Linked DNA regions of Homo sapiens. The protein of the gene in region 1 purifies or fractionates together with the protein of each later gene. This does not show direct contact. Each region holds a gene or a part of one and is shown in the gene's direction. Other genes may lie near its edges.

Region 1 (6,145 bases):
CGTGGTGCTGAGTTAACGCCACAGCAGTAGCTTTTTGCCCCCGTGGACTAGTTTTATACCTGCCCTTCCCCATCCATCATTTGAATGATGTCATTTGTTAGTTGTGCCAGGTTTACATGAAGAGCAAGTGAGCCTATGTTTTCTGTTCAGCCTATGGGATCCTGCTTATTGCTTTGGGGACACCACATTAGAAAAGAGTTACAAGGGCTGGGCGCGGTGGCTCACACCTGTAATCCCAGCACTTTGGGGAGGCCGAGGCGGACAGATCACGAGGTCAGGAGATCGAGACCATCCTGGCTAACACAGTGAAACCCCGCCTCTACTAAAAATACAAAAAAAATTAGCTGGGCGTGCTGGCGGGCGCCTGTCGTCCCAGCTACTCAGGAGGCTGAGGCAGGAGAATGGCATGAACCTGGGAGGCGGAGCTTGCAGTGAGGCAATATTGCGCCACTGCACTCCAGCCTGGGCGACAGAGCGAGACTCCGTCTCAAAAAAAAAAAGGAGTTACAAAGTAGAGGTTATCAGTGGCTGATATCAGGCTGGCCTTGTTTGGATGGGGAAAAGGAACTCCAGAACTGAAAGACAGAGGGACTGGACTGCCTCTTGAGTGTGGAAGGTGGATCAGAGCCAAGCAGGGAGCTGGGGAACCAGCGCTGGGAGTGGCTTGCCTGGTGGCGCAGACCCAGCTCACTCAAGATGGATCTCATACTGGGGAAGCCAGGAGATTCAGCTCTGCTCCGAAGGCCCTTCCTGTCTGCACGTGGGTATCACTGCATGAAGAGGAGTAGAGACCCGATTGGGCAGAAGCCATTCCTTGTTCTATTTTTGAAGCTTTTTGGCTGAAGCCAGTGTTTCATACGAGGAAATGAAAGTTGGCTGATGTAATTCAGTTTAAAATAGGTGTCACCTTTGGGGACCTAACCCAGATTGTAATTTTCTTTTGCATGCTGGGTATTCAGAACTCAGCAAAGAATGTGTTGTCAGGATTGCAACTGAGGTTGGGGGGTAAGGGTGGAGACTGGCTCATTGTTGGCAAAAGCTTCTGTTAGATTGATAAACTCTTTCCAGGTAACAGTTGGGACCTCATTGATCCCGATAGATCTTAGAAGTTCTAGCACATCTTAATTTCCTTAATAGTTTAATTGATGAAGAGCATTGATGAAGAGTTAGGAGGTCTCCCTTTGTACCTACATTTTCCGCTTTTTTAGAATGAGAAGATGAGAACGACCTCCAGTTCACATGTACGGGTGCTGTGAGGATCCAGTAGGGGAGATACAGTGCTCAGCACCAAGCAGGTGCAAGTGAGCACAATCCAATTTTACATCAAGTTACCCCTCCAGGACAGTTGCTTTGACGTGGAAGGTAGAGAGGGAGTTGAAAGGAGGGTTTGCATGGTTGGCAGAGGTGCCCTGCAGCCTCCCTGTGCAGGCTGTAAACCGTCTCTGCCCCCCTGGAAGCCGTGGAAGGTGGGTGGTATGGATGAGATCCCATCTGACTCTGTTCCTGAGCTGTTTCTGAAGTGAGCTTGTTCATGACGGCATGGATGTGCTTGAGCCTAGCTATCCTTAACTGGTGGTGATGCACAGGGGACATGCTTCGGGCATTCCATGCAGCCTTGCGGAACTCTCCCGTCAACACCAAGAATCAAGCTGTGAAGGTAAAGGGGTGGCGCTGCGGCTCTGCTGGGTGCTGTTGGGACCAGGGCTGTGGGTGTCTGCCCAGTGCGAGTGTGAGCTTTCATCCACATCAGAGGGAGTGAGTTGGCACTGGGCGGGGCTTCCAGGGAAGCCTCCTGGCGCTCCCTAGGTGGTGAGGCTTCTCTGACATCAACGCTGTCAGCGTTTATATACGAGAACCTCCCCACAGAAGCCTTCACTCCTGCTCACGGCCTCGTAGGCTGAGAAGTCAGCCTGGCCCTGGCTGATGAGGAAAATGGATGAATTCGCTCACCTGTGGTGCTTATGCTCCCACAGACTGTTAAATAGGCTTTGTCTGCCTGAGGATTTTAAGTACCCGTACGCTTTCCTACCTTCTAAAAACTAAATTGTGCTTACTGCATCACCAAGTCTAAAATTTGGTTCAGAGAAAGGGGTCTCCCTGCAGCTGGGATTCTGGCAGCTGTGACAGCATCTTGATGTCACCAGTGGCTGCACCTTCACAGAGTTCTGGGGAATGGCCCCACCCTTCTGGGTGTGAACACAAGAGGGACGCTGCAGCCGAGTCAACCTGGTTTTATTTTTATTTTTTAATAGTCCACCACCATTGTGGAGTATAATAAGGCCTTATTGGTGTCATCTAAAATAGTGATGGGCTGGGTGCCATGGTTTATGCCTGTAATCCCAGCACTTTGGGAGGCAGGAGGATCGCTTGAGCTCAGGAGTTTGAGACCAGCCTGGGCAACATAGCGAGACTTTGTCTGTATTAAAAAATAAAAAAAATAATTAGCTGGGCATGGTGGCATGTGCCTGTAGCCCTAACTGAGGTGGGAGGATTGCTTGAGCCTGGGAGAGGCTGCAGTGAGCTGAGATTGCACCACTGCACTCTAGCTCAGGCAACAGAGCGAGACCCTGCCCCTCCCTCCCTCTCTCCCTCTTTTCTCTTCTCTCTCTCTCTCTCTCTCAGAGTTGATACTTGTCCTAGTAAACTACTTACTCCCCCAAAATAAGTAGGGTAACTTGTTGGCATAAATAAAAGATACTTTGAAATTTAAATCCACAAAAGACGTTCTAACCCACTTATTTTAACCATCCTGGACGAATTAGAAACTGGGCAGTGTTTCTGGTGATCTGTGTCCTTGCTTTGGTGTGGGGCATGGCATGGCGGTGCCTTCGCAGCTCTGGGACTCACTTGCTCTTTTTCGTCTGCAGGAGCGAGCCCAGGGCGTGGTGCTGAAAGTGCTCACAAACTTCAAGAGCAGTGAGATTGAGCAGGCTGTGCAGTCACTGGACAGAAACGGCGTTGACTTGTTAATGAAGTACATTTATAAAGGCTTTGAGAAGCCCACAGAAAATAGCAGCGCAGTGTTACTCCAGTGGCACGAAAAGGTATGTGAACGCTGCCACGCGCCCCAGTGAGCCACCTGGCTTGCCTTGGGGTTCGATCAGCAGGCCAGATTTTCCAGAACAAACGTAGGACGGTCTGATAGGCGTGTGGGGTCAGAGGACGAGCCCCAACCTGGGACATGTCATCACTTCCCTCTCCCAAGGAAGCTCCTGGTAGGGACCTGCTGTCTGTGGTAATTGCAGTTACTTTTTTGCTTTTTAGCTGCCGATTTATGTCAGGCAAGACAGGGTGCCCTTGGTACAGGACATGTGGGCAGATAACATGGCATAGTAAGGTGGTCAGGGAGTCTAGGTAGGAAGGGGGCCTGCTGGTTGGTTGGGGCTTCATGATACTTGCAGTGGTGGAGGCAGCTGTTGGGGGTTCTTAGAAATAGAGTCCTCCAGCCAGCTCTAAGGGCTTCCTGCCCTGGCCTCAGCCTTAGCAGGCCAGAGTGAGCAGTGGGCAGAAACCTTGACCTCACTTAATATGGCCTTCGTCCAGGTGAAGCAGAAAGAGCTGTGTCTGCCCTTCGCTTGGGTCCGTGTGAGAGCAAGGCCTTTGGCAAGCCTGTGTCGTGCCTGTACCACTGGGGCTGCCTCCCACACCCTCCCCTGCACACCCCTAGTGCCGCAGTAAGCACGCCCACCATTAAAGCAGACCAGGAGTTACTAACCTGCCTGCCTTCCTCAGAGGCTCAGTGTTGAGTTGGAAGAGAGGGGTTTTACAGTGGGCCAGTCCTTAAGGTGGTGTGGGTGCTGGGCTGTGGTTGTGGCCTTAGGTCTGCTGGCGGGTGTGCTGCACCTCCTTGGCCTCCCCTCTCCTGGGCTCAAGGAAGTAAACAAGTCCTCTGTATGATGGGGAGGCCAGGACCTCTCGTCCCTTTAAGGCAGCTTGGTGCCTGCCAGTCACCTCAGCGGGCGGCAGTCAGTGGGCTTGTGTGCATCTGTAAACTCAGCACTTTGGGAGGCTGAGGCAGGAGGATTGCTGGAGCCCAGGAGTTCAAGAACAGCCCAGGCAATGTAGTGAGAACCCATCTCTACAAAAAAATAAACTAGGCTGGGTGCGGTGGGCTCACGCCTGTAATCCCAGCATTTTGGGAGACGGAGGCAGGCGGATGACCTGAGGTCAGGAGCTCAAGACCAGCCTGGGCAACATGGTGAAACCCCGTCTCTACTAAAAATACAAAAATTAGCCGGGGGTGGTGGCGGGCGCCTGTAATCCCAGCTGCTCGGGAGGCTGAGGCAGGAGAAGCGCTTGAACTGGGGAGGCAGGGTTGCAGTGAGCCGAGATCGTGCCATTGCACTCCAGCCTGGGTGACAAGAGCGAAACTCCGTCTCAAAAAAAATAAATTAGCCGGGCCTGGTGGTGCACACCTGTGGTCCCAGCTACTCAGGAGGATGGCTTCAACCCAGGACATCAAGGCTGTGCAGTGAGCTGTGATCTGGGCAACAGAGTGAGACCCCATCTCAAAAGGGAAGCTCGAGGGCTCTGCTTTGTGTGCTGGTGACAGTGTTCTCAAGCCAGTTCTGCCCAAGAGCCAACAGCTCTCGGGACCCCACGGCTCCAGGACAGGGCTCCTTCCCTAGAATGTGCTCTATCTCAGGAATCCTCTTTCGAGGATCTGTGACGGGATCTAGGTCAGGGAATGTCCCCCCTGTCTCTGGCAAGCCAGGCTCCCCTTGGCCAGCCAGGTCTCATCTGACACGTTTTCTTTTCCTGCCCCCACAGGCCTTAGCAGTAGGAGGACTAGGCTCCATTATAAGAGTTCTTACAGCAAGAAAGACTGTTTAAAAAAAATAAAAAGACTCATGTTACCTTGAGAAGAATTCTGGATGCCCAGGCTGGTGAAGAAGGGATTGACAATGGACCATCTTCCTAGGAACTCCCAAGTAAACTATTTCAGGACATGTATCTGCTGAAATGTATTTTATTTTCAAGGTGGAGGGGAAAATCGTCTGTTTCCTAAATCCTGTTTAGGATCTGATAGTCTATGCCTTTGTCTCCGAGTACTGCAGAACTGACATTTTGACGGTCTACCAGCGTGGCGGCTGGTGTTGGTCAGATGCACCTGTGTGCACTGGGGGAGGGATGGTTTGGGCAGGTGCAGATCCAAGGGCTGTGGTAAACGGGAGAGCTTGTGTTTTTGAAGTGGAAAAAAACCCAAGAGTTTGTACAGACATCCTGTCTTCCCAGAGAAGGTGGACACTCTTGGGCTCATTGTAAAGTGCCTGCTGCATCAATAAAGCTCTTGGCTTATTAGTCTATACATTGCGGTGTGTTTCGTGTATGTAAAAAAAAATGGTAATGAATGGGATGGTAATGAATGAGAGTTCAGTTGTTGTTCCGGAAACCCGATGTGGAAGGAGTAGACCTGTGTCCCTGTTGAGCCACCCCTGGGAGCGAGCATGGCAATCCACAGGCCCTCTGCCACAGGACGCCAGCCTCGGCCTCAGAGCTGCCGGCTGCTGCAGAGAGGTGTTTGCTGAATAAACTATTTATTGTTTCTTATTCCTTTGATTTGTATGTAATTAATTTTGGAGCTTATTTAATTAATTTAATAAAGTGCCAAACATTTAATAATTGATCTAGGCTTTAAAAGTCTTCAGTTTGTGGGATTGCACTTGGAATCTTTTGAGGGTGGGGCCTCAGATGTGCCTGGTCACGTCTCCTGATGCTGGGTTGGCTGTGCTGCAGAATCACTGCTGCATGGACAAGCTTTCTTTAAAGAACTAAACGTCAGAAATGGGGAGCAATCAATCAGCAAATAGATGGTATAATTTGGTTCCCCATAACCAATAACAGAGCTTCTCTGAAGGGCAAAAATGCTTTTCTTTCCTTTTCAGCACATGTGACTGCAGCTTGCATTCTGTTAAAGGTTAGGGCCCCATTCACACTCCAGAAGCTCCTCTGGGTCATACAGCCTTTGGATACAGACTTTGACCAAAGTGACACAGTCCTCCCCTCCACAGCTCTCCCCTCCTCAGTCCCTCTTCAGAACCACTGCAATTCTTGGGGGGGGTAGAATGGGGCTGTTGGCTTCATTAAATTACGTATATTTATTCACCCAAATCCAGTCTGGGAAGGTTCTTTCTGAAAGAAAGAC
Region 2 (2,906 bases), on another chromosome or scaffold:
CTTATGAGAAGAATGTTTCTCATTTCTTGAAACAAAATGTTAAATCTAGTATACAGTTTAATGTCCTAATGTAAGACATTAAACTGGAAATCTCTCATTTTTTTTTCTTTCTTTTTGAGATGGAGTCTTGTTCTGTCACCCAGGCTGCAGTGCAGCGGTGCAATATTGGCTCACTGCAACCTCCGCCTCCCGGGTTGGAGCGATTCTCCTGCCTCAGTCTCCCAAGTAGTTGGGATTACAGGAGCACACTACAACACCCGGCTATGTTTTGTATTTTTAGTACAGACGGGGTTTCACCATGTTGGCCAAGCTGGTCTTGAACTCCTGGCCTCATGTGATCTGCCCACCTTGGCCTCCCAAAGTGGTGGGATTACAGGCGTGAGCCACCATGCCAGCCTTGGAGATCTCTCTCTTTTTTTTTTTTTTTTTTTTTGAGACAGAGTTTCGCTCTTGTTGCCCAGGCTGGAGTGCAATGGCAGAATCTCGGCTCACCACAACCTCCGCCTCTGGGGTTCAAGCGATTCTCCTGCCTCAGCCTCCCAAGTAGCTGGGATTACAGACATGTGCCACCACGCCCAGCTAATTTTGTGTTTTTAGTAGAGATGGGGTTTCTCCACGTTGGACATGCTGGTCTCGAACTCCCAACCTCAGGTGATCCACCCGCCTCAGCCTCCCCAAGTGCCAGGATTACAGGCGTGAGCCACTGCGCCCAGCCAGAGATCTCTTTAAAACCTAAAAGTCATCCGCAGAAGAACGGCACATTCTCAGTGAACTGGAATTTTTACTTCTAGATGTCCATTTATTCATTGAGGAAAAATGGAGTGCTGTTTTGGAAACAGGCCCTATTGGACACCAGCCCAGGTTTAACTATATAGATATATATTTATAGCTGACACTAATTAATTTAATAAACATTTAGTACATATCTCCTGGGTGCCATGCATGATGCTGAGCACTGAGAATATCCAATCTGAATGAGCCTGTCTGGTAGAAGAGAGAGGTGGATACGGGGGCTGGGTAGGGGATTCGGCAGAGCTCAGAAGAGAAGCCAGTGCCTCTGTTTTCACACAGAGGAATCTAGGGGGATGCGTGGACTGCAGGGAACAGGTTGCACCTGAGCGGCATCCTGAGTTGCGATGGGTTTTGGAGGGAGGGACTGTGAGTTGAGAAGACACAGGCGAGCATCCTCGGCTGCAAGTGCAGCACACCCAGGGCAGCCCTGGGCTTCAGAGAGCGCACACTGCCTCTGAGGCGCTGCCCGTGCTGTGGTCCTCCGGAAGCACAGATGGAGCTAGAAAAAAGAGCTCTAGGTAGCCAGGCGCAGTGGCTCATGCCTGTCTTCCCAGCACTTTGGGAGGCCGAGGTGGGAGAATCGCTTGAGGCCAGGAGTTTTGAGACCAGTTTGGGCAACATAGCGTGACCCCATCTCTATAAAAAAGCCAGGTGCAGCCAGGCGCACTGACCCACTCCTGTAATCCCAGCACTTTGGGAAGCTGAGGCTCGTTTCTCCTCACTGCTTTCCTGTCTTGAGCACAGGAGTTCGAGACCAGCCTGGGCAACACAGTGAGATCCTGTCTCTATTTAAAAATATACATATATATATTTTTAAAAACCAGGTGCAGTGACGCATGCCTTTAGTTGCAGCTACTTGAGAAGCTGAGGCAGGAGGATCACTTGAGCCCAGGAGTTGGAGGCTGCAGTGAGCTGTGGTCACACCACTGCACTCCAGCCTGGGGCAACAGAGCAAGACCCTATCTTTAAAAAAAAAAAAAAAGAGGAGTGAGGAGTGTGCCCAGAGCCTGTGTGTGTGGCAGTGGGGAAAAGGCACACCTGGCCTGGAGGAGCCAGCAGGGGGAGCCCCGGCCTGGAGTGTCTCTGCGGGGTGAGTCCTGGGAGATCCTGTTTCAGGTGGGGCAGGGCCAGGTTCAGGGTGGGGACAGGCAGAACCTTCCCTGAGGAAGAGGGAGTGGTGTCATACCTACCTCGGGGTAGACACTCCTCAGTGACATCAGTGCTCTTCCCACCTTTTCCAAGACCCTCGAGTCTTCCATCCAGGGCCTCCGGATAATGTGAAGCTGAGTGAGCCTCCGCCATCCAGCATGACAAACTGTGGCCGACCGCAGCTGTGCCGTGGCACGATGGCGAGGAAGCCAGCCCCAAGGAAACACTGAAAACACATATCACGCCAATGCCGTGTGGTTTTGTTTGAATATAAAATTGGTGAAAGTGTTGGTTTTTTTAAGGCAGTAATTTTTTTGTTTGTTTTTTTGCGATTTCATTCCATTCTTGACCAAAGCTTCTCTTTAAGTAGTTTATTATGGAAAATTGTCACACTAACTTAAAAGACAGGGTGAGGGAGATATGTAAATTGTCCACTAGAAAATTAAATAAAAGAACTGAATGTGGTTTTGGTTTTGTTTCCTTGTAGTATTTCAATTTTTAGTAGAAAAATATGAGCGAATTCTTCATTCGATTCAGTTTTTTTTAGGCAAAATCTTAGATCCTTGGTTTCTTAAATTGTACCATTCTATACAACCTTGAACCAAAAAGCACCATTTAGTGAGGGGTGAGAGAGAACCGTTTCTGAACATTGCAATACTTCTGCAAAGTAGGTTGTGTCGGTCTGTTTTGTGTTGCAATAAAGGAATACCTGAGGCTGGGTAATTTGTTTAAGAAAAAAGATTTATTTGGCACACGGTTCTGCCGGTTGGACAAGAAGCATGGTGCCTGCGTCTGCTTTTGGGGAAGCCTCAGGAAGGTTTTACTCATGGCAGAAGGCGAAGGGGAAGCAGGCGTGTCCCATGGCGGGAGAGGATGCAAGAGAGAGTGGGGAGGACCAGGCTCCTTGAAACAACCAGGTCATAGAGTGAGAACACACTCATTCCTGCCAGGGGGCACCAAGCCAT

What was found. The genes of interacting proteins can lie anywhere in the genome.
Region 2: the proteins of ARPC5L (region 1) and ARPC1A fractionate together in Homo sapiens (co-fractionation; 7 studies listed by BioGRID and IntAct, with this or other methods). This does not show direct contact.

The regions. Positions count from the first base shown.
Region 1 is NC_000009.12:124,872,108-124,878,252, forward strand, and holds the end of ARPC5L (actin-related protein 2/3 complex subunit 5-like protein), read left to right. Parts: exon of another isoform or gene 1-1,559; coding exon of another isoform or gene 1,560-1,579; exon of another isoform or gene 1,580-1,584; coding exon 1,585-1,657; intron 1,658-2,867; coding exon 2,868-3,044; intron 3,045-4,770; coding exon 4,771-4,833; 3' UTR 4,834-5,626; downstream 5,627-6,145. UniProt on the Homo sapiens protein: May function as component of the Arp2/3 complex which is involved in regulation of actin polymerization and together with an activating nucleation-promoting factor (NPF) mediates the formation of branched actin networks.
Region 2 is NC_000007.14:99,363,857-99,366,762, forward strand, and holds the end of ARPC1A (actin-related protein 2/3 complex subunit 1A), read left to right. Parts: intron 1-2,034; coding exon 2,035-2,073; 3' UTR 2,074-2,406; downstream 2,407-2,906. UniProt on the Homo sapiens protein: Probably functions as a component of the Arp2/3 complex which is involved in regulation of actin polymerization and together with an activating nucleation-promoting factor (NPF) mediates the formation of branched actin networks.